4 linked regions of the Homo sapiens genome follow. The protein of the gene in region 4 interacts with the protein of the main gene of each other region in a pairwise test. Each region holds a gene or a part of one and is shown on either strand. Other genes may lie near its edges.

What was found.
Region 1: the proteins of EIF3E (region 4) and GPBP1L1 interact in binary tests that used the Homo sapiens proteins (3 or more experiments, as listed by UniProt).
Region 2: the proteins of EIF3E (region 4) and EPN2 interact in binary tests that used the Homo sapiens proteins (3 or more experiments, as listed by UniProt).
Region 3: the proteins of EIF3E (region 4) and RUNDC3A interact in binary tests that used the Homo sapiens proteins (3 or more experiments, as listed by UniProt).

The regions. Positions count from the first base shown.
Region 1 is NC_000001.11:45,683,521-45,690,999, reverse strand, and holds the start of GPBP1L1 (vasculin-like protein 1), read left to right. Parts: upstream 1-4,466; 5' UTR 4,467-4,588; intron 4,589-5,379; 5' UTR 5,380-5,424; intron 5,425-7,479. UniProt on the Homo sapiens protein: Possible transcription factor.
Region 2 is NC_000017.11:19,233,080-19,240,378, forward strand, and holds the start of EPN2 (epsin-2), read left to right. Parts: upstream 1-4,286; 5' UTR 4,287-4,452; intron 4,453-7,299. UniProt on the Homo sapiens protein: Plays a role in the formation of clathrin-coated invaginations and endocytosis.
Region 3 is NC_000017.11:44,311,584-44,318,618, forward strand, and holds part of RUNDC3A (RUN domain-containing protein 3A), read left to right. Parts: intron 1-996; coding exon 997-1,112; intron 1,113-1,520; coding exon 1,521-1,669; intron 1,670-1,834; coding exon 1,835-1,920; intron 1,921-3,151; coding exon 3,152-3,241; intron 3,242-3,345; coding exon 3,346-3,426; intron 3,427-3,571; coding exon 3,572-3,737; intron 3,738-3,868; coding exon 3,869-4,026; intron 4,027-4,801; coding exon 4,802-4,939; intron 4,940-5,035; coding exon 5,036-5,142; intron 5,143-5,453; coding exon of another isoform or gene 5,454-5,540; intron 5,541-5,901; coding exon of another isoform or gene 5,902-5,921; exon of another isoform or gene 5,922-6,278; intron 6,279-6,512; coding exon 6,513-6,655; 3' UTR 6,656-7,035. UniProt on the Homo sapiens protein: May act as an effector of RAP2A in neuronal cells.
Region 4 is NC_000008.11:108,200,681-108,203,717, reverse strand, and holds the end of EIF3E (eukaryotic translation initiation factor 3 subunit E), read left to right. Parts: intron 1-214; coding exon 215-317; intron 318-600; coding exon 601-735; intron 736-1,794; coding exon 1,795-1,833; 3' UTR 1,834-2,502; downstream 2,503-3,037. UniProt on the Homo sapiens protein: Component of the eukaryotic translation initiation factor 3 (eIF-3) complex, which is required for several steps in the initiation of protein synthesis.

The sequences.
Region 1 (7,479 bases), on a different chromosome or scaffold from region 4:
AGAGGCACTGAATCAGGGGCATGTTTCTGTGTATAACACAAGGTGTCACTTAATTTTCCTCATTTTATACATTAATTTTTAAATAGTAGTAATTCATGAATATAACACTTTCCTTTGAAAAGAATCATTAATGTTTTCAAACTGTCGGTAACACAGTAACAAAATAGATCCTTTTAGTATCTGAACTGTTCTTTTAGCTTTGGCTGTCTAGTGTAATAGAAAGAGTAATGCACATAGAGATTTTACAGATACTTCCACCATTTCCTAGCTGTGTGACACTGGGCAAATTGCTTGAGTACTGGTTTTCTCATCTTTAAAATGAAGGGTCTTCTAAGTGGTGTTTTTGTGAAATTAAAAAAAAAACCAAAACAAAACTGGAAGGTCATAGCTTCTGTTTCCTTTTTTCCTCCTATTTTGGGGCTTAAGAGTTCACAACTCAAAATAACGATAGTACCAACCAATATAATTTAGGTTTTTTTAATTTGTTTGTTTGTTTTGAGACAAGAGTCTTGCTGTGTCGCCCAGGCTGGAGTGCAGTGGCGCGATCTTGGCTCACTGCATCATCTGCCTACCGGGTTCAAGCAATTCTTGTGCCTCAGCCTCCCAAGTAGCTGGGATTACAAGCTCCTGCCACCATGTCTGGCCAATTTTTGTATTTTCAGGAGAGATGGGGTTTCGCCATGTTGGCCAGGCTGGTCCTGAACTCCTGACCTCAGGTGATCCAACTGCCTAGGCCTCCCAAAGTGTTGGGATTACAGGCATGAGCCACCGCGCCCGGTGAGCATTAACTCATTTAATGCTCAAAATAACCTCATTAACTTAGTACTGAGAGAGAATAGCCTGTTGGAGTGCAGACTTTGGTGTCAAACTTGGTTGGAATCCTGGCTCCACTACTTATTAGCTGTGTGTCTTTGAACAAATTATTTAATCTTGTTATGGTGCAGTTCATTCACCTTTGAAATATGGATACTAATTCATAGGGTTGATGTAACATTTTTTTTTTTGGATACAGGGTCTCGCTCTGTCACCCAATCTGGACTGCAGTGGCGTGCTCTCCGCTGTCTGCAGCCTTGACCTCCCGGGATCGAGGGATCTTACCACCTCAGCCCTCTAAGGAGCTGGGACTACAGGCCACGCCACCATGCCCAGCCAATTTTTTTTTGAGACGGAGTCTTGCTCTGTCGCCCAGGGTGGAGTGCAGTGGTGCCATCTCAGCTCACTGCAAGCTTCGCCTCCCAGGTTCATGCCATTCTCCTGCCTCAGCCTCCTGAGTAGCTGGGACTACAGGCATATGCCACCACGCCCAGCTCATTTTTTGTATTTTTAGTAGAGACGGAGTTTCACCATGTTAGGATGGTCTCGATCTCCTGACCTCGTGATCCGCCTGCTTTGGCCTCCCAAAGTGCTGGGATTACAGGCATTAGGCACCGTGCCTGGCCCCAATTTTTGTATTTTTTGTATAGAAGGGGTTTTGCCATATTGCTCAGGCTGGTCTTGAACTCCTGAGCTCAAGCAATCCACCTGCCTCGGCCTCCCAAAGTGCTGGGATTGCAGGTGTGTGCCACTTAGCCTGATATAACACTTAATAAGTTACTACATGTAAATAGCTGAGAACCGTCCCTGACACAAAGCACTTTACACAGGAGGGACTGATTAAAAACTCTAATGTAAGCAGCCAGTAAAAACAGGTGAATGATAATATGGATCTAGATCTGACAATTTCATTCTTAACCAAGAGAATGGGATGTCTAAAAAAACCTACAGTTGCTGCTTAATTTTAAAAAATCGATTGGGCAGGGCGCAGTGACTCGCTCCTGTAAGCCCAGCAGTTTGGGAGGCCGAGGTGGGTGGATCACGAGGTCAGGAGTTCGAGACCAGCCTGGCCAACGTAGTGAACCTCCCCCCCGTCTCTACTAAAAATACAAAAAATTAGCTGGGCGTGGTGGCAGGCGCCTGTAATCCCAGCTACTCGGGAGGCTGAGGCAGGAGAATTGCTTGAACCTGGGAGGCGGAGGTTGCAGTGAGCCGAGATCGCGCCATTGCACTCCAGCCCACGAGACAGTGCGAAGCTCCGTCTCAAAAAAAAAAAAAAAAAATCGATTGAACTAATTTATTGATCACAGATCTTAGGGCTGGGTCAAGAAATCCTGTATACCAGTTAATGTCTTCATACTATACTTAAGGAAGCAAGTAGGGAGGTAAGTAATCCTGGGCCTCCGAGTAGAATTTAGATCACACCCACACCCACCCACCTGAGCCCCAGACCAAAATGCCCGCAGAGCGTACCCATCACTTTTGTTCAAAATCACTTTCTTCTTAAGGACTTTCCAGACCACTCCATTTAAAATCTCAACCATCCCCCCATCTTTGGAAACTCCCTTTCCTCTGTGGCACGTGCTTTCCAACTAGTGGGTATTAAAAAGTGATAACCTAAAAAGTCCAGGGACGGCAGGTGATGCGGGATTAAGGACTGAGACTCAAAGCTTAATCCTCCTAATATAAATGAAAAAGCTCAATATTCCCATTGCCCTGGTGGGAAGACTGCAAACTGCCAGCTTCAAACTGACCTCTGAGAAAGGAAGGCGGGGTTTAGACGCCAGTGTCTTCGGGAAACCCTGCCCGAGAGTGCCCGCGTCTCCAATTTACTACCAACCCTTGGTGCCCTCCCATCCCAACGTCGCAAATTTACTACCAACCCTTGGTGCCTCCCATCCCAACCTGCACCTGTGGCGACTTTGAGACTTGCCAGCGTTGCACGGAGAGAAGGAAAACAACCGCAACAACAGCCCAGGTCCACTGGAAAGGCACTTCCGGCAAGTGGATTCAGAGAGGCCCCTACTTCCTGAGGGCTGAAAAAAAATGAGTCCGGGTAGGGACTTGACCTGCGCTAATTGGTTCCTAGGCCCGGCTTTCTGTTTGGGGGCCATTCTTAATTTCTAGTTGAATCCAGATGTTGAACGGTCCTTGAAGTTCTATTCCAGGGCTCCCAGGCAGCAGAATCTGCCCACAGAGTTCGGGTAAGTAGAGTGCAAGTACTGAAACAATCTCAGAATGATGGTGGTGAAGGAAGGTAAGAGACGGGATTTTAGGCCCAGTGTGACCTGAATTGCTTGCCATCTGTGGGACTTATGTTTTACTTTGCAAAACAGGGTTTATAAGGCCTATGGGGACACATCTCACTGCATTAGGGCCCTTTACTATCATTTAGAGGGGGAAAAAAGCCCAGTTCTTACATCCATTTTCTTTGCTGGGACCTATAAACTTCATTAAGGGTTAAAGAGCACAAGAGCAGGATTTTCACTTCCATGAAAGGTGTGGTGATAAGGGCCCTAGGCTTGGGGGTGGTTCGGAAAGTCAGATCATTTCTCCTACTGCCCTCGGCTTTATTTCTCGGCTATGTGACCTTGGGCAAGTCCCTTCTCTTATCTAGACTTGTTTCACAGGAAATGGCACCAGGCAATTTTAGTGCCCTTCCGTGTCTATGGATAAAACTGAAGACATGTAGTAGGAGATCTCAGGGGCCCACGCCGGCCAGTCCCTCCAATCCTCCGGATTCTAGGTAGTCTAGCTTCCTGGTTGCCAGCCATTACACGGTTTAGCTTTCCGTGCCGGATGGAGCCACAGCGAAGTCTTCCTTAATAGTAAGCGCTTTTAGTCGAGCTAGGCCTTCAGTTTTATTGCCTTCTCTGTCATGGCAGCGCCGCCCCTTCCAGTAGTGCGATACCCAATGAGACTTCAGGTAGGAGAAACGGCACTGTCGCAAGCGCAGGCTCTCGCCGGAATCCCGCCCTTCGCTTGGGCGGGGGAGTGACGCCTGCGCTCCAGGGGAACTACTACTCCCAGCGGGTAGCGCGGCCGACGCAGCCGCGCAGCCTCCGGGGCCAGGCCGTGTGGCCCGCTGGGGACTGGAGTCTCAACGACGCGCACACGAGAAGTAAGGAGCGGAAGGTGGGAAAGGGCCGGAAAACACACGTTCCTCCGAAACCGGTTTGCAAGTCCTTGTAGAGGTAGTTTCGGGACGCGCACTGGCCAAGGGGCGGGCTGTGGGAGGGTGAAGAAAAAAGGGATACACACATGCATACCCACCCACTCATTCATACGCGCCCAGGCCCTGGAAGTGGGCAAGGGGGTTAGAAGGGGCGTACTAAACTAGGCTTGTCCGTGCCTCAGGCGGCACGAGGAAAGGCAGAGGATTCAATTCTGTAGGGGGCAGAGGTGACCATGCGCCGCCTCAAGCGGCGAAGAAGGGAGCCGGGGGCGGGGCAGGGCATAACCGCCGTTCTGGAGGCCGAACGTTGGCAGCGTAGGGAACTGGCGTCCGGGAGGGTCGCCGGAGCAGTCCCTTGCGCATGCGCTTCTTCAGGTGGGCGTGTGTAAGGCGGGGTCGGACGGGGGATGGGAGGGCCGTGCTGCTGGTCGCTCCTCCTCCTCCACCCGCTCTGCCCCTCCTGGACCTTGTGGGCCGGGCAGCCATTTTGGGAAGAGCTTTGTTATGGTTGTGGACTAGCCGCCTCTGCCGGGTCGACAAGCTGGGGACGCGTCCTCAGACGCAGCGTCTAGTCCCTGGCCATAGCTCCGCCGCTGCCCGGTGAGTGGGAGTTTGGGAAACGGGGCAGTAGGAGATCCTGGAGTCGTTCTGGCGCGGGGCTCCGCCCGGTGCCTAACCAACGGGCTGTTAAAACTAGTTGAAAGAAGCTCTCACACAGGTGGTTGGGTATAGGTCCGACCCGAGAGGGGCGAGCGGAGCCCACGGGTCAAGTGGTTCGGATGCGGCACCCCCGCCTCCCCCGTGCATGGAGCTTTGCACGCGAGCGTCGCCGGGGCTCCGCGAAAGCGCTCCTACTTTAACTTCGGTCGTCGGGTCGGAACGCTCACCTGCGGCTCTTTGGCTCCTCTCCAGGCGATCCGGCTTGGTGCTCGTTGAGTGACTTGGCTTACGGGTTTTTTTCTTTCCTTCTTGAAATGAGAGCTAAGGGCTTTTGTTTTCCTTCAAAGGAAAACCTAAGGAGGAAAAAGTGTAAGTCAAATGTTGGATATCTGAGGGGAAAAAAGTTTTAACCCCCAGCTTTCCGGTTCTCTGTGGTAGCGAGGTGTTTTCGCTTAGATTGAGTCTATCCGATATCTACCAACCTCCTTTCCTTGGAGGGGCAGGGAAAGCTGGTCGATCCTGAAATGTTTTAAGTGTTATTTTTTTTCTGTTGTTTTAAATCTAGTTCTCCCCAACCCGTGAAATTCGAAAGACAGTCTGAATCCAAAATGGCTGTAGCTTGGGGAAGTGCCCTGCCCTTCGATTACTTAAATACATTAACGTTTAAAGATTTTAGTCCTTTCCCCTGTGGGGACATTAACTGAATCTTTTGATATTTTGGTTTTTTGCAGTTGGTGTCTCACCTTTAACTCTCCTTATGCTGGGTGAAAACAAAGGTGAGGCTCACAAAGTTGACTATTCCAAAAGTTTACATAAGAATGGGTGCGGTGCGGTGGTGTGTGTGTTTAATAGTTGCTTATAGTTTTGAAATTGTGCTGTGGTGTCAATTTTATCTGCCAACTTCGTGCTCTGAAGTTGGCTTGTCATATTTGTTGAAATATTTTTAACATTGACATTTATTGCTTACCAGAAAAATACAGTTAATAATAGTGGTTCATGTTTTAGTTTAGTAGTAAGTCGTGTTCTTGTGTAAATCTTATCCAAAAGTAAAGTGATTGGTAGTCACTCCTCATTAGACTTATATTTGTAATTTAGTAGACTGCTGATCTTTTCTAAGGTCTTTTTTATCCAATATTTGAAAGGAAATTAGGGTGCTATTAAGTTTGAGATATTTACTAGAATAGTGTAAGACATTTTAACAAGTGAAAACATACTTTAGGTATGGAGTACCTGATTGTCGTGCCCTTTTGAACAAGAGACTGTCTTTTGTTTGCTTTTTTTTTTTAATCGATAGATCCAGAAGTTTAAACAAAAAGTCATAGATTGGAAACCAAAACCAATAAATTTCAATATTTGGAAAGGTGCTGAAGCCTGTATCTATTTAAAAGATAAAAGAGTGAAATGCTAATTGTGAATGAGAACTTTGAAATTAATAGTAAAATAAACTCATCTTTCCTAGGGAGTCAGTTTTCAATGTACCTTTTGACGTTTTTTCAAATACAAAAGTTGGTTTTTGTTAATACCCCTAGGATTTTTTGTTGTTGTTGTTAAATTATTTTGGTGGTTTTACAGGAAAAATATTTAAAGTTTTTAATAGAAATTACAAGCTAGTTGCTTTGTGTTTTGTCACTGTTAACTACTAAACTGGAGTGAGATATTGATTTTTTGGGGGGGTACTCAGTGGTTTGTACATGTTAATATAAACATTCAGTTGATTCTGGATGGTGTCTTTATCAGAGCTCTTGATTTGTGGTGTGGGGGGAACTCTTGGGGAAACCTTTATTTTGAGCGAATTCAATTTACTAGATTGCTCATCAGTGGCTGTTAAAATGCTTAGCTGAGGAGGACACATTCAACCATTTAAATTTAGAATGATAAGAAATCTGGTGCACATTTCTGCTTGTAATTCATTTTTAATTTTGAGTTAAAGATAAGACACAATCGTGAATCATACTTCAGAAGATTGCATATCTTTATTTTATGGCTATAACTCTGATGTGCCAGGGACTGACTGCTGTTTAAAGTGCTTTGTATTTGTTACTTACTTTTTTTTCCTTCTTTTCTTTTCTTTTTCTTTTTTTTTTTTTTTTTTTGAGACGGAGTTTCGCTCTTGTTGCCCAGGCTGGAGTGCGGTGGCTTGATTTCTGTTCACTGCAACCTCCGCCTCCTGGGTTCAAGCGATTCACCTGTCTCAGCCTCCCGAGTAGCTGGTATTACAGGGGCTCACCACTACGCCTGGCTAATTTTTTGTATTTTTAGTAGAGATGGGTTTCACCATGTTGGCCAGGCTGGTCTTGAACTCCTGACCTCAGGTGATCCGCCTGCCTTGGCCTCCCAAAGTGCTGGGATTATAGTCATGAGCCACCGCCCCCGCCCGGCTTGTTGTTTACTTTTATAAGTATACTGGTTTATTTGTTTTGTTTTGTTTTTGATACGGGGTCTCACTCTGTCACCCAGATTGGAGTGCGGTGGCATGATTTCAGCTCACTGCAGCCTCCACCTCTCAGGCTTAAGCAGTCCTCCCACCTCAACCTCCCTAGTAGCTGGGACGACAGGTGCGTGCCACCGCACCCAGCTAATTTTTTTTTTTTTTTTTTTTTGTATTTTATTAGAGAGGAGGGGGAGGGTTCATCCTATTGCCAAGCTGGTCTCGAACTCAGGGACTCAAGCAATGGTCTCGAACTCAGGGACTCAAGCAATCTGCTCACTTTGGCCTCCCAAAGTGTTGGGATTACAGGCGTGAGCCACAGCGCCAGGTCTAAGTAGATACTGTTTTATACCCTATTTTGTAGTTGAGGAAAAGGAGTCCAGAGATTCATCCAGCTGGTAGG
Region 2 (7,299 bases), on a different chromosome or scaffold from region 4:
GGCATGGTGGCACATGCCTGTAATCCCATCACTTTGGGAGGCCAAGGCAGGCGGATCATTTGAGGTCAGGAGTTCGAGACCAGGCTGACCAACATGGTGAAACGGCGTGTCTACTAAAAAAATACCAAAATTAGCTGGGCATGGTGGCACATGCCTGTAATCCCAGCTACTCAGGAGAATCGCTTGAACCAGGGAGGCGGAGGGTGCAATGAGCCGAGATTGCGCCACTGGACTCTAGCCTGGGCAACAGAGTGAGACTCCATCTTAAATAAATAAATAAATAAATAAATTTAGAAATACAAAAATTAGCCAGGTGTGGTGGCACATGTCTGTAATTCCAGCTACTTGGGAGGCTAAGGTAGGAAAATTGCTTGAACCTGGGAGGCGGAGGTTGCGGTGAACTCCGCGCCACTGCACTCCAGCCTGGGCAACAAGAACGAAACTTCGTCTCAAAAAACAAAGAAAAAAAGTTTAGCTTTGGAGTTTAGGCTTGGGTTTTCCAGGGTTACCACTTTTTAGCTGTGTTATCTTGGGCAAATAATGGAAGCTTTCTGAACCTCAGCTGTAAAATAAGGATAACGGTAGTCTCTACCTCTTAGGGTTTTTTATGAAGAGGAAATGAGGTACTGCATGCAAAACATTTGCACAATGCTCACTACTTTGTTGTCATTGTTACTAGTTCCTTTCTCCAGCACCTGCACTTCCAGGATGTTGGCACAGGTCCTTCCTTCCCCATGGGCTAGAAGGAAACTTCCTCCTGTGAGAGCTGTCATAGCTCTTTCTCTTGATTGTCTATGTGGCATTTGGTTTCTGCTCATGTTCATGCTGCCCAAACTCAAAACTTCTCTGTCCTAGACTTTCAACCCCTAGAAGGGAAAGGATGGCTCCATTCTTTTCAATGTCCTTAATAAGAGAACTGCCATCAACACCCATCCAGTGCATTTACAGTTTCCAAAGCATTTCCTCCTCTGCCTTTTCACCTGAGCCAGAATGCAATCCTAGGGAGTGGGAGGGGTTATTATTCCCACTTCACAGATGGGGAAACTGAGGTCCAGGGAGGGGCAGTGACGTCATGGTCAAGCAGCAAGTCGGTGGACAAGAAATTAGGTGTTTCTGGATTGCCAACACAAGTTTCTTTTTGTGGGACAAATAGTTTTGAATATAGAGTTCAAGCCTTTGGTGAAGATCCCGGGGAGCCTGTTCTGCACCTGTGCTAAGTGATTCTTTTCATTCAGCATGCAGTCTGTCCCTGTCTGCTGCCTGCCAGTCTTTCCCCCAAAGTCCCTTCCTGCTTGAAACCCTCCTTCCCTAACCCCAGAGACACCCCTGGCCTGCACTGCCAGCTCTTTCTTCTGAAATACACCTCTCCAACCGGCCCCCATCAGTCTGCTCCATTATCCACCTGGAACCAACCTCCAAACCTCTGCAAGGGCAGATGAGAGTGTCTCCTCCAGCCCTGTTTTCCATGGACTGCTTTGGGCACGGATGAAATTGTTCAGCTTATCCTGCAAGTTCCTCTGCAAGACTGCTTATGTGCTCTAGACTCATAGAACCTGGAATTGAATCCTAGCCCTGCCACATGCTGCCTCAGTTTCCGCATCTAAAATAGGAATAGGGCTGCTGACGTCAAGGGATCATCATGAGGATGAATTGAGAGAGGAATGCCAGGGGGCTGATACGCTTCAAGGAGGGGGTCCAGGAAAGAGAAATGACTTTGAGGAATGCAAGAATGTCCCCTCTGACCTTGCACGTGGCGGTCTTCCGGCCTCAGGACACCCTCCTCCACTTCCCAAGCCTGGGCTAATCTGGTATTCTCCAACTCACTTCCTGTCCTGTAGGTTAGCTCATCATCTCATTATCTGTATCCAGTTCTCTTTCCAGGCTTGCATATTATCTGTGCGGCTACACACACTTGCTAGGTGGGTAGTGAAGGGAGTATTAGGCTCTGCATATGGAAAAGTGGGCCTGGGTGGCCAAGCCCCAGCATATCTCCAAACCTCAATTTCTTGTCTGTAAAATGTGAACAGCAAGAATGTGCACCTTGCTGGGCACGGTGGCTCACACCTGTAATCCCAACACTTTGGGAGGCTGAGGCGGGAGGATCACGAGGTCAGGAGTTCGAGACCAGCCTGGCCAACATGGTGAAACCCTGTCTCTACTAAAAATACAAAAATTAGCCAGGTGTGGGGGTGCGGGCCTGTAATCCCAGCCACGTGGGAGGCTGAGGCAGGAGAATCACTTGAACCTGGGAGATGGAGGTTGCAGTGAGCTGAGATTGTGCCATTGCATTTCAGCCTGGGCAATAGAGTGAGACTCCGTCTCAAAACAAATAAATAAAAAAAGAATGTGCACTTGTGGAATTGTGGTAAGGTTTTAGACCAGCACTGGTCAGCATGGTAGCATCTAGCCACATATGGCTATTTACATTTAAATTAATAAAAGTTTAATGAAGTTTAAAAAATTCAGCCCCTCAGTCTCACTAGCCACATTTCAAGTGCTCGCTGGCCTCCTGTGACTCGTAGCTATCCTACGGACAGCACGCAGAAAGAACATTTCCATCGTGGAGGGAAATTCTGCTGAACAGTGCTGATTTAGAAGCATCACGCCCGTGCTGTGCATCAGCTCTGTGTTATAACTCATCTGACATTGTAAACTCAGGGCAGAAGCATGATTGCAGTGTAAAGTTCTGCTTTCCTTGGAGATGGGGTAAAGAGGTGAGGCTCACAAGGAATGTTGGACTGGTTGAGGGCATTCTCTGGGATGAGGGTGGACCAAGTTCAAAACGGGGAGCTCCGGCTTCTGCTGCAAGGCAGGCACATAGGGCATAATTCCCTCTGCTGGTGGAGAAGGGGCACCAAGCAGTGGGAAGGGTGGTTAACTGGAGAGTGTTTCTAGCATCTAGAGCTACCAGTGTTTGACTTTTCAAAGGAAAAGTGGCTATGTGGTTTTGCAAACGTGTTACAAGCTCTCTCCATTTTTATCGTATTTATTGTATCACTAGCTAGACTAATAAAGAAAAAAGAGAAGATACAAGTAAACATAATCAGAAAGGGCAAAGAGGACATTACCACCGACCCCATACAAACACAAAAAAGCCCTCAAAAACTATTATGAACACGTCTATGCACACACACTAAAAAACTTACAATAAATAGATGAATTCCTGGAAAGATACAACCTTTTTTTTTTTTGCCAGAGAATGGAATTCCAGATCCTGGGTTGTTAGAACCTTAAGGGATACTTTCATCCCCTGGTTCCTGTACAGGGAGGAGGAATCTGAGGCTCAGAGAAGTACAGTGACTTGTTTAAGGTCCCTCAGTGAGTTAGGGCAGAGGAAGACTTCTGGCCACAGCTTCCCTGAAGCCAAGGCTAGGCAGAGTGTTGATGTCACCCAGGCAACAGGGATGGTGCCCTCTGCCCACCTAGCAAGCCCTGACTCATGCTCCGCGCCCCTGCTGTGAGAAGTCTCTGCTGACTCCCACCCTGATTGGAGCAGGTTAGTCAGCTTTGAGGTGCAGCCTCCAGTTCTGGCCCCTCCAGTTCCGGGACTCTCATTCGAGGCATTTGGGGCTGTCTCATTTCTGTGCCCAGCACAGGGCTTGGCACAGAGGAGGTGCTTTGTGGGTGCCCGCCAGTCAAGGGTTTCCGTTTTCGTGCCATGTAGGTAACCCCTTGCCATTCGTGCCCTTAGGTAACCCCTTGAGCAGCCTAAAGAAGCCTAGAGACTTCTCCGTTTTTGAGTATATTTTATTGACGTGAAATACACGCACGGAAAAGCGCACAAATCCAAAGTGTACTTCCGCGCATCTTCATAAAGTGAACACACTTGTAGCCTAAGAACCCAACCCTACCAGCGCCCGGCAGGCCCTGGCCCCCTTCCAGTCTCTCCTACTGAACAAGGTTTTTGAGTGAAACCGGCAGGCCGGAGCGTGAGTTTCTGCTTGACGGGGCGGGGTCTGCGCGTGCTGCCCGGCCGTGAGTGTGGGGGGGCCGTGAGTGTGTACGGGGTGGAGTGGCCTGAAGGGGATTAGAGTGCGCGCGTTCGGGTATTAATTTGCCAGGGTTTGTGTGGCGCTCGGGATTGGGGGTTTTTTGGGGGCTCGGGCGTCGACTGTGGGGCGCTGCGGAAGGGTGGGTCGTCCGCGTGGGGTCCTGGAGCGCAGGAGGCGGAGGGGAAGCCGCGCAGGGGCCACTAGGGAGGGGCTCTGGCGGGGTCGCAGGGGCGTGGTCTGCGGGCGTGGGGGCGGGACCTCGGGGCCTCGGGGGCGGGGCCTGAGGGCGCGCGCACGCGTCCGGCGCGCCCCCTCCCGGCCGCCATGTTGGCTGGTGTGTGGGTGTCAAACTGAGCCAGACGCGGCGGTGGCGGCGGCTCCGCGGGCTACGGTCGCTCCCGCCTCTCGAGCGCTGCCGGTGGCCGCAGCGGCGCACCCACGCCGGCCCGGAGGAGCAGAGGTGAGCCACAGCCCGTGGGGCTCCAAGGCCAGAGCGAGTCCCCGGGGCGAGGACCCTCCCCCTCTCCAGGGCGCGGACGCCCCCAGAGCACAGGCTCCCCTACCTCACCAGCCCCGCCAGGGCATGCGCCCCTGCCGCCCCGCTGGTCCCTACGCCAGGCTCTGGGGGATCCCCTTCTTTCCAACCAGGCCCCGCCCCACGGACTGGAGCATGGCCCCCTTCCCATCTGGATCCAGCTTTCCGCTGCAAGGATCTCCCCCCTTACCCGTCCCTATCACCGAGCATCTCCTTTTATGTCCCCAGAGTCCAGGGCGCCCCTTACTCCTACCTCGGATCCTGGAGCCCCGTTCATCTTGGAACAACCCCGCCCCCTCCCCAGAGCACGTTCCTCCTCTCCCCGAGCCCGGCGCCCCTTCCTCCTGAGCCCAGCCTGGTCTCCCGCCAGCCCCCGTGCAGAGCCCGGTCCGGGCGCCCTCCGGGAATCGGGGGAGGGGTCCTTATCTCTGTCCGGGATCCCGCCCGTCTCACCTTTCCTGGGGGCTGTAGCAGGGCCCCCTTCCGTCCTTGGGGACCAGGCTCCCCACTCCCCAGCCCCCACTCCCACGGAACAGCGGGGACGGGGGCGGAAGAGCCAGGCTCCAGCTGCCTTTTGTTCCGCGTGGGATGGCAGAGACCCACCCGGCCCGGCGGTCCTGCTCGGCTGATCCGGGTGGGTGAATGGGTGCGTGGGGTCTGGCCTCTTCCAGGAGAGACTTCCTCTCTCTCCCTGTGGGGCGGCTCCCCTAGAGCCGAGAGCCGAGCGCGTTGGGAGGCTGGCCTTTGCTAGAGGAGTCGGTGCCAACAGGTTTTTGTTTGCGACCTGAAGTTTGCCCAGTGGCTTTCCCTGGGGCAGCTTGAGCTCCCTGTGAATCCCCCCGCCGGAGCTTGTGGAAGGCCGTTTCTCCGCCCAAGGAGTCCGTCTGGGCGACTCCTTCACAGTTGTGCTTCCCTGGGGACGTATCTAAAATCTGTGCTTTAAGAGCGGAGAGGGCTTAACCATCATTAGGGTTCAGATGAGGGAAACTGAGGCCCAGAACTGCAGTAATTTGCCCAAGGTCACGCAGTGATACTGTGTCAGTGCAGAACTAGAAGCTAGGTCTCCAGGCTCTGTTTACCACATTTAATAACTTTTTTATCTTTTAGGGAGATGTTCAGGACCCTACCTTCCCCTTTATTTTTAATATTTATGCAAGAAAGTGGGCAGGAAAATATGAGAAGTAATGAGTTATTCCTTTTCACCTCCAGAAAATATCCTGTGAAAGAAGGGATTGGAACAGGGTGTTAAAATGATGGGAAAAGGTGAATTTTAAGAATCCAAGCTTCCTCTCATTATGTAATATAACGAAGATTTGGCAGAAAACGTGCCTCTTGTAGCTCTAGATACAGAATTTTAGGTGCTGACAAAATCTTATGCTGAATCTGGCACAGCAGTGATTGAGTTAGCATTGATAATTAAGTTTTCATCTGTATTTAAATGAACATCAAAAGGGACTACAATTTGCTTCTGAATGGTACTTGTTCGGTGCTTGTTTTTGGGACAAGTGATTGTGTTGGGGAAGCGCACCTAAACTTTTAAATTTTTTATTTATTTATTTTTTTGAGACGGAGTCTCTGTCACCCAGGCTAGAGTGCAGTGGCACGATCTCGGCTCACCGAAACCTCCGCCTCCTGGGTTCAAGCGATTCTCCTGCCTCAGCCTCCGGAGTAGCTGGGATTACAGGCGCACGCCATCCACCACGCCCGGCTAATCTTTGTATTTTTAGTAGAGACGGGATTTCGCCACGTTGGCCAGGCTGGTCTCGAACTCCTGACCTCATGTGATCCGCCCACCTCGGCCTCCCAAAGTGCTGGGATTACAGGCGTGAGCCAACACTCCCGGCCTAAATCTTTTATTTATCTGTATTTTTACTTTTACATTTTAAAAGCTTATTTATTTCCCTGGTTTTAAAATTGGGCTAGTCATCTTTACCAGTCTCACTGGGCTATTCTTTTGTAAGCAGGGAATGAGATACTGGTTATTAAAGATTTTGGTAAAGTGTAAGTTACTGTAAGGCATGATTCAGGACTGCGTCCCACAAGTCCCCGGACCAGGAGCCAGTTCGGATTGTCTTGTGGGATGTACCAAGTTTCCCTGGTTTACAGAGGCTTTTTGCCTCTCTGAAGCCTGAGCTGGCCAGATGGAGAGCTCTGTGGAAAACTTCCAGCAGTGTGTGTTGGGCCAAGCACTCGAGGTGTGAAGAAATGTAAAACTTTCAAGTGATAATATCTAGCATCGTGTATGCAGCCTTGAAAAATGACCCAACCTTTGTAGAAATTCTCTGTTATCACTAACCCTCTTCCATAATGAGCGGAGGATTTCCCAAGAATTGGGATTCTGATAAGAGTCCTGCAAAAGTTGAAAAGTTTTCGGACTTTTTTTTTTTTTAACTTTAATTAGGAGGAGCGGCAACTTTCGGTTGTGAACTGAAGTACTATGAGATTTTTATGCATGGAATTGTCCTTGTCATACTTTTGGAAAGTACATTAAAATTTTCTAAGTTTTCTGGCGGTTCTCACTGTTCCCCATAACCTTTCTCTCTGGTGTATAGGGGTGTGAAGGACCACGATTGTTGTCATTTTATGACATGTATACCTGGTGACCCTGAGCCTTGGAGAAGTCAAAGGGCTTGGATTTGGGGAATTTTTTTTTTTTTGAGATGGCGTCTCACGCTGTCACCCAGGCTGGAGTGCAGTGGCGCAATCTTGGCTCACTGCAAACCTCTGCCTCCTGGGTTCAAGTGATTCTCCTGCCTAACCTCCCGAGTAGCT
Region 3 (7,035 bases), on a different chromosome or scaffold from region 4:
ATTTCCAAGCAGCTCCCATTTCCCTGGACACCCCGCCCCTGCTCTGCCACCCACAGCAGGGAAATCATGGGATGTTAGGAACTGTGTCCTCATCCCTGCCCTACTCCATTGCAGGGATGGCAGGGGGAGATTGCAGGGGTAGTGACTGCAGAGGGAGCCTGAGGCTTAGACAGGACTGGAGAGGGGGCACTGCATGGCTTCAGTCCTTCAGCCCCACAGGCTTCCCTTAGTCCCTTCCTCCCAAAGAAGCCAGGCCCCCAAGCCCCTTCCAGGGATCTGCTGCCAATGCCCCCTCCTGCCCAGTGTCTGTGTCAGGCCCATACCCCGCACCTCCCCACCCCACCCCCGCCCAGCTCTGCACTGCCTGGTTCTGGGCAGCTGGTGTGTGGGAGGCCAAGCCGGGAAGGAAAGGGGGGAAGGGGGTATCTGTGTACTGGGAGCCCACCTGGCCACCTGCGCATGCCCACACTCCATGTGCACAGTGCCAACTCACATGCCCTGGTACAGGTGACCCCCATCCCCAAAAGGGACTGAAGGTTGCTCCAGCAATCACAGAAGACAGCTCAGGTGGGGCACACACTGGCTTCTAACACCTAGTTGACCCAGGCCTCGCACACACAGACCCTGAAGGGTGGTCTATGGGGAAGGGGCTCCTGGACCGCCCCCGGCTTGTGCCTCATCTTCCTATTTTTTCAGTCCCTCTCACCCCTTGCTCCCGAAGCTTCCTTTCTCTGGCTGTCACCTCTCCTGTCACCCACTTTGTCAATCAGTCTCCCACCTGTCACCCTTCCTCCCCATCTGCCACCCTCTCACTCCACATGACACGGTACCTCTATGGTCACTGTAGTCTTGCCTGTCTCCCCACTCGCTCTGCCCCCCACCACATCCATGCCCTTCCTGACCTTTCTTCTCTGCCGGTTGCTCCCTGTCTCTCCCTCCATCACCTGTTTCCTCACCTGACACCCCACTGCCCCATCTCCCCACCTCGCCGCCCAGGTTCTCTGTGAAAACGCTGCTGGAGAAGTACACAGCGGAGCCCATCGATGACTCATCGGAGGAGTTTGTCAATTTTGCAGCCATTTTAGAGCAGATCCTCAGCCACCGCTTCAAAGGTGGGCCCAGCGCCCCTCCCCCAGCGGTCCCTCCCCCAGCGCCCCTCCCCCAGTGGTCCCTCCCCCAGCGCCCCTCCCCCAGCGGTCCCTCCCCAACTCCCAACCTTTAGCTCCCAGCCACCTCTTTCTGATATACTCCATGGACTCTGAACCCCCTCATTGACCCTGGCCCCCATTCTGGGCCATGCACAGAAGCTTGTGTACAGATCTGGGAAGAGGGAGAGGCCTTTGGCCTACAATCCCCATCATGGGCAAGCGATATGCTGGGGTGCCCACTGCACACGTGCATGTGTGTGCACAGATCTTTGTGGGAGGAGGCTGCTTATGCTTATGCATGTGAGTGCCTCACTACATGGACCCTCTCCAAACTCCCTGGTCTTGCTGAGCCCCCTCCCTGCCCTGGCTCAGCCTGTGCCCCAGCAGGTCCAGTGAGCTGGTTCAGCTCAGACGGGCAGCGGGGCTTTTGGGACTATATCCGGCTGGCCTGCAGCAAAGTGCCCAACAACTGTGTGAGCAGCATCGAGAACATGGAGAACATCAGCACAGCCCGGGCCAAGGTGAGGGGCCTGAAGCAAGCAACTGCTCTCTGCTCTGGACACAGGGGGCCTGCCTGTTTCTTGGTTTTTGCCCCCTGTGCACAGCCCAGGGGAGAAGGGCCCACACCTGATGCTGGACACATGAGTCCCTCTGGGGCAGCAAGTAAAGGTGAACATGATTTCCAGGGCCGGGCATGGATCCGGGTGGCACTGATGGAGAAGCGCATGTCAGAATACATCACCACGGCTCTGCGTGACACCCGGACCACCAGGTCAGACTTCCCAGGCAACTCAGACCACAGGTCTCAGAGTGCACCTGCATTGCCCAAACACAGCTGATCCTTAAGTTCCTGCAGCATCCTTCAGTTCCTGGACTACAAGTCCCAGCACCAGCACACATGGCTGATTTCCCTCTTCCAGCCTGGCCTGCAGTCCCAGGACGAACTCTTTTTTTTTTTTTTTTTTTTGAGAAGGAGTTTCGCTCTTGTTGCCCAGGCTGGAGTGCGATGGCGCGATCTCGGCTCACTGCAACCTCCGCCTCCTGGGTTCAAGCGATTCTCCTGCCTCAGCCTCCTGAGTAGCTGGGATTACAGGCATACGCCACCATGCCCAGCTAATTTTGTATTTTTAGTTTCTCCATGTTGGTCAGGCTGGTCTCAAACTCCCAACCTCAGGTGATCCTCCCGCCTTGGCCTCCCAAAGTGCTGGGATTACAGGCATGAGCCACCGCTCCTGGCCCCAGGACAAACTTTTACCACCACCACCACCACCACTTGCAAGTCAAATCTAATGCCCATTATTTGCCATCAATGCCCAGCACGCTCCACCCTTGCACACCTCTGGATGAGCCTCAGCCATGCACCATCTCAAGTGTTGGCTTGCTCCATGATCTACAACACAGCCCTTCTGTCTCTCCAAACAACGAAAGCAGTTCTGTACTTGCTATTCACGGACACAGAGTCCTTATATGGGGAGTTCAATCCCTGCACTGTGGGTTCACAGGGAGGTTGGGTGCCTGAGGCAAGGGGTTACAAGGAGGAGTGTGCCTGTGTGGGCAGGTGCATCTGAAGCTGTCTGGGTGTGGCGGGGGGCATATACCTCCCCATCCCAATTGGCCATACCCAGCCTGATGTTTTTACTGAATTCCATTCCTCAGTCTACACGTTTCAAGTTAACACGTTTTTTGCGCACCTACTGTATACCAAGCACTAATGATTAAGACTTGCTTCCTGATATGAAGGATCTGGGTAACCCAGTACTTGATGAGGAAGGGGTAGCTCAGAGGGAGGAGTCGGCTCAGGGAACACCCATTCTAGGTGATGGGGCCACAGGTGCGAGCCCCAGGCTGAAGGGGGAGAGAGGCTCCAGGCCTGCGTGCAGATCAGGAAGGAGAATTGGCCTTCCTTCAGGATGGGGTGGCAGTAAGCCAACAATAGCAGCTCTGGGGGGGGGGGGGGCGCTCCAGGGGCCTGCTGCATCCTCTGGCCCTCTGCCTCCCCACAGACGGTTCTATGACTCTGGAGCCATCATGCTGCGGGATGAAGCCACCATCCTCACCGGAATGCTGATCGGACTGAGCGCCATCGACTTCAGGTGGGGTCTGCCTGACGGCAGTGGTGGAGGGGGCTGTTTCCCCCATAAATGTCCTACCCCAACCCCTCACACCCACCTCCAACCCTGTGGCTCCTCTGCCTCAGCTTCTGTCTAAAGGGGGAAGTCCTGGACGGGAAGACCCCCGTGGTCATCGATTACACGCCCTACCTAAAGTTCACGCAGAGGTGAGCGGCTCCATGACTGCGGCGGGGCGGGGGACGGGGCCTCGGGACATCCTGGGGACGTCCTGGTCCCACCGCCCTCAGCGGCCAGCGCAGACGCGCGGGGGGAGGGGCGGGACCGGCCGTGCCCACTGCTCCCTCTCCCAAGCTACGACTACCTGACGGACGAGGAGGAGCGGCACAGCGCCGAGAGCAGCACGAGCGAGGACAACTCGCCCGAGCACCCGTACCTCCCGCTCGTCACCGATGAGGACAGCTGGTACAGCAAGTGGCACAAGATGGAGCAGAAGTTCCGCATCGTCTACGCGCAGAAGGTGCGCGACGCCGGCGGGCCCGGGGGGCGGGCGGGCCGGGCGGGGGATCCGGGCATCCCGGGGCGGGGCGGGGATGGGGGCCGCGGCCGGGACGTCCTCCCAGCCGCCCGGGCTGAGCCGGCGCCCCGCAGGGCTACCTGGAGGAGCTGGTGCGTCTGCGCGAGTCGCAGCTGAAGGACCTGGAGGCGGAGAACCGGCGGCTTCAGCTGCAGCTGGAGGAGGCGGCGGCGCAGAACCAGCGCGAGAAACGGGAGCTGGAAGGCGTGATCCTGGAGCTGCAGGAGCAGCTGTGAGCGCACGGCCTGCCCTAACCCCTGACCCCCGCCGCCCCGACCACATCACCGGGTGAACCCCATCTTCACTTCCATCGACTCTAACATCACCCGACACGAGCACCCACCTCTCCAGCATCAACCCTCTGATCCAGCCAGCCCCACCCCGAGATGCCCACAATGATCTTCTAACATTGCCCCCAGCATAAGATCCAGTGACTTCCAACAGCCAGAGCCCACCCTTCACCTTCAGTTATCTTCCGCTAGAGTGGCCATCCAACCTTACTGCAGGGACCCCACGTCACTCACAAGGACCTGCGGTGTTGCTCTGCAACCTTCAACACGATTGCATTCATCGCCTCACTCACCTGCACCACAGGCTCACTGACCGTCATCATCCGCCGTGACCCCCGACCTCACCCCTGCCGATCCCTGTAACACTTCTTCTCTACGCCTTTCCACCACCCTGATCTTGCGGCAAGATCCCCAAGACGATCTTACACTTCAGGGATTCCCACACTATCCTCCACTGACGTCCCCATCACCCCAGCTGACCCCAACAACACTGCACCATTCCCTCCAACTCCCAATATTTGTGCACGAATCCCTGTCACCCCTCCACCCCAGTACCACCTCCACTTCCTCCCGGGATCTGGCCCACTGACCCCAACACCGTATCCCCATTTTTGCCGCTCAGATTTCATTCCTGACCCCTCCCTCATCCCCTTGCTGAATCTCCCTTCCTCACTTCTCCTACTTCCAGCCAGGCCTGACTCCTCCTCCCCCTCCCAGGACAGGTCTGATCCCCAGTGACCACGCCCCTCTGGCCCAGGGTTCCAAGGAGCTCACTACACCCCTGGTCAATCAATGGCCCTCACTGGGAACGCTTAATGGGGCCGAGGGCGCCAGCAACTCCAAGCTCTACCGGAGGTAAGCCCCAGCCAGGTGGGGCTTGGGCCTGAGAGCGGGTCGTCCTGGGGAAGAAGGGCTTCCTCTACCGGCGCACCAGCTCTCGCTCTGCCGCAGACACAGCTTCATGAGCACGGAGCCGCTGTCAGCTGAAGCCAGTCTGAGCTCGGACTCCCAGCGCCTGGGAGAGGGCACGCGGGACGAGGAGCCCTGGGGTCCCATCGGTGAGCTCCCCCAACCCAACACCCAGTACCCCTCCAGAAAGGGCTGAGGCAAGGCCCTGAGGCCTCAAGGCATGTCCTCATTCATTCTCTTAGTCTTTTTTTTTTTTTTTTTTTTGAGACGGAGTCTCACTCTGTCATCCAAGTTGGAGTGCAGTGGCGCAATCTCAGCTCATTGCAACCTCTGCCTCCCGGGTTCAAGGGATTCCCTTGCCTCAGCCTCCCGAGTAGCTGGGATTAAAAGCGCCTGCCACCACGCGCAGCTAATTTGTGTATTTTTAGTAGAGACGCGCGGCTAATTTGTGTATTTTTAGTAGAGACGGAGTTTCGCCAGGCTGGTCTCGAACTCCTGACCTCAAGTGATTCACCCACCTTGGCCTCCCAAAGTGCTGGGATTACAGGTGTGAGCCACTGTGCCCGGCCTCTCTCAGCCTTTCTTGAGGGTTTAGCACAGCAATCGAGAGCTTACTTTGAGGTGGCAGAACACAGCATATGCAGAACCCAGCATAAATCTGGCTGTGCCTCCTCTGACCATGTGAGCTTGGTCAATCACTTTACCTCCATGAGTCTATTCTTTGTAAATGGGGATGTTGATAATCACCAATGTTGTCACATGGTGAGGGCTCAGTGGTTTTTTAGTGTCATGACATCCTCGGGGGCTCACAAACTCTCGGGGAACTCCTTAGACTAATTTGCTCTTATCTCATGCACACTGTGAACTACTTGCCTGACCATTGTTTCCCCCTTCTCTTTGGCTGCCAGGAAGCTCAGAGCCAAATTAGTGGCTCCCTTCGAGCGAATGCCCAGGACTTCAACGCATGCACTTTGTGTTGACCTCATCCCTGGCTTCACCTTGGTTTTTCCCATCCTAGTTCTCCCTATGCCTGAATATCCTGTCTTTTCTTTTTTATAAGCAACCACACTGTATTGGATGACCCTAGATCTTCTTTGAGACAAGGCAGGCTGTGGCCATGTAGCCCCATCACACTGTGTTTGTGATTGTCTGTGTGTCTGTCTCCCCCACCAGACTGTGAGCTCCATGAGGGCAGGGACCGTGTCTTGTCCGTTCTCTGTATCCCCAGTGCTTGGAACAGAGCGAGTGCTCACTGTGTATTTAATAAATGGACAAAGAGAGAGGATGACCCTCACGGGGAGACAGAGACATCAACTGACGATTACAATACAGTGTCCCCAGCACGGTGCCTGGCACAGGCAGGTGCTTAACCAAAGTTTAACTGAAAATGGCAAATGCTGTGGAATATGCCAAGGTCTCCTGGGGGGTGACTTGAGGGCTGCCCCTTCACTGCCCACCCCTCTACCAACTCCCACACATGTAGACTGGTCGCTTGGCCTCACCTGCCCTCTCTCCCCAGGGAAGGACCCCACGCCCTCCATGCTGGGCCTCTGCGGCTCCCTGGCCTCCATTCCCAGCTGCAAGTCCCTGGCGAGCTTCAAATCCAACGAGTGCCTGGTGAGCGACAGTCCCGAGGGCAGCCCAGCACTGAGCCCCAGCTGAGGAACAGCATGGGCAGTGCCAGCCCCACCTGCCAGGGGCCATGGACACCTGCCACCTTTCTTCAACAAGAGTCCCCCAATCCAGGCTACCCTTCCAGAGAACGCTACCCACCCAGCCAGGGTTCTCTCGGGGAAGATCTCGTCTGCTCACCTTAGCTTTCTGCCTTGGCAGCACGGGCTGCGGAAGAAAGCACGCTGGGCCAGGAGGCAGGGGTGCCCAAGCCACAGGGAGCCCCTGGGGAAGCCTGCTCCATTCTTCTGGTGACCTTGGCGCTCCTTCACTCATCTCCCCTGCCCCCTCAGGAACTGGTGGCCCAGCTTCCACACCCCCACCTCCCAGTCTCTAGCCTCTCCATCTGTCTGTGTATGGCCTGGAGTCAC
Region 4 (3,037 bases):
CAGTCCAGTTGGTGAATGGAATAGGTCGTGCATAGTACAAGTCAATAGGCACAAGCACATGAACAAATCAGACAGTAGGGGTCATGGTATATAAGAGAAGGGTGATCCAGAAATACCAAAAAGTATCTATGCAGAGTGTGAGTCAACACTGTGTACATAAAACTAAGTTTTTAGGCCCAGTTAATTAACATTGCTGTTTTTACTTTTTCATTAGCATGTTGGCAGATAAATTGAACATGACTCCAGAAGAAGCTGAAAGGTGGATTGTAAATTTGATTAGAAATGCAAGACTGGATGCCAAGATTGATTCTAAATTAGTGAGTATTATGTTAGCTATGCTACATACTATCAGTTCCTGATTATACTTTTGGGAATTCTTAACTAGGACATTTTATTACCTCCTTTAATAATTTATTTTGTTTTAATGTAAAACAGTTCTTTGAAGGCAACAGAAGCCTCCTATTTTTTTTCTTCCTTGGTAAATATTGTCATCTCTATACAGTGCATTAAAATATGCGCAAAGGTATGTCATGCTTTTTACTTACCTGAGAAACTCAGTCATTAACATTATAGGATCAATTTCCCTGTGTTTCCTTTTAGGGTCATGTGGTTATGGGTAACAATGCAGTCTCACCCTATCAGCAAGTGATTGAAAAGACCAAAAGCCTTTCCTTTAGAAGCCAGATGTTGGCCATGAATATTGAGAAGAAACTTAATCAGAATAGCAGGTCAGAGGTAAGAACCACACATCTTCTATTCTGTCTGGGGTTTAGCAACCATGTAATTGTTACATGAAGTTTCAAAGTGTATTGATGAGTTGTAGCTGATTTTGTTTTTCTCTTTAAAGATATGAACATTTTTAAGAAATTACTAAACAGAAAATTTTTTCTTAGATGTATTATATGCATTAAACATAGAAACTGAAAAAGAAATTGTGTTCCTAGTTTATTATAACTATTTTTCTTTTGCTTTGACTCTTCCTGTGTGACTTCATTAACTCATTTCCTCAGGGTTTTCAACACATCATTTTGATACTGGCAGATGATAACTTACATGTGTAGCCCTCTTTCAAGTGTTCGAAATGTGTATTCTTTCTAAATCTAAAGAAATAATTCTGTAAAAATGTTGATCTTATTATATGTATTAGTGCTGATCTTATACAAATTTCATTATCTTTCATCTGATATTCATATCAAAAATTAATCTCCCATTTTGATAGAGATCCTGCATGTTAGAGATTGAAGAAACTTGAATGGCCTTATAATTTTGGAATCCTAAACTGTGTTGTTTAGACATTATGATTATGTGTAACTGGAGGGTAGGAAGTCATTAGGAAGCAGTTGTGGGATATGCAGAGACCCCATTTGATTGAAATTTTAGGAACAAATTTGTGTCCGCAGAATAATCCTTTAGTTCAAATGAGAAGGATGCATTAGAATTCAAGTTGCATATTTTAGCCAAGTTTAGAATAACTGAGCCTAGAAAGTAACTTTCATATGATGTTTTTTTCTGTATGCTTTAGGATTAATTTGTATCATTTATTGTTCCAGTATTAATGATACTGTTATTGCTATATATTTTAATTGGCCAAAAGCTATACCAGATAATAATTTTGGTGTTTGTTTTGTCCTGAGTGGGACATCTGACATCTAGTAATTGCAGGAGTTAAGATCTTAGAATGGTTTGGCAAGAGACTATAGTGCTGAAGTAAATGCTGTGTTACTTTCTTCTATGTTAGTTTTTTTCCGAAAGTATTTTCTTTTCACGGTGTTGATTTCTTTTTGCATATTTTAGGCTCCTAACTGGGCAACTCAAGATTCTGGCTTCTACTGAAGAACCATAAAGAAAAGATGAAAAAAAAAACTATCAAAGAAAGATGAAATAATAAAACTATTATATAAAGGGTGACTTACATTTTGGAAACAACATATTACGTATAAATTTTGAAGAATTGGAATAAAATTGATTCATTTTATCTTGCTGTCAGTTTTCTTGCATGTGCAAGTTTGTGTTTTTTTAACTTTCTTTTTTGGAATAATTATATTCAGAGGAATTTGCAAAAATAGTACAGAGAAGTCCCTGTAGGCTGAACCCTGTTTCCCTCAATTTTTTCACTTTGTCTTACTATGGTACAGTATCAAAACCAGGATGTTGACATTGGTACAATGTGTGTACAAATAGCTCCCTACCATTTTATCACGTGTAGATTTGTGTAACCATCACTGCAGCCAAGATAGAGAACTATCATCATGATCTCCCTCATGCTACCTTTTTGTAGCCATACCTACTCCCAACCAACTCTAACCCTAGGAACCACTAATCTGTTCCTCATCGCTATATTTTGTCATTATGAGAATGTTATATAAATGGAATTACATAATACACAACCTTTGAGATTAGCTTTTTTCATTCATCACAATGCTCTTGAGAGCCATCCAAGTTGAGAGATAGATATATATATATATATGATCAGTAGTTAATTCCTTTTTTATTGCCAAATAGTATTCCATGGTATTGATGTGCCACGTGGTTTAACTGGTATTGATGTGCCATGTGGTTTAACCATGTACCTATTGAAGGATATTTTAGTTGTTTCCAGTTTGGTACTATTACAAATAAAACTGTTGTTCCTTAATTTCTTAAAAGTGGCTCCTCAGTCACTCACTGTATAGTTACGGAGACTAGGCATATAAGTTGAATTTTATAAGTGTCAAATGTTAAATACAGACATACTGTTTACTGGATACTGGAGGTATTTAAGAGCTACAGAGCCCTCACTGGGTCCCTTTTTTACATAGAAGTGGCTTGATTTTTCACTTTGGTTGAACTGACAGCCAGTCAGATAACAGAAACTTGTTGCTGCTCTCAAGGAGGAGGTTCAAAGATAAAAAGGTACATACTGTTCTTTTATTTGACATCTGATCAGGCCACCTTCCATACTCAGTTTAGAGACTACGGTAGTTAGGTTGCATCTGCCATTCAAAGAGCATGGAGACCTCCCAATACTAAACAGCATGGGGGTCTACAAACTTTTTTT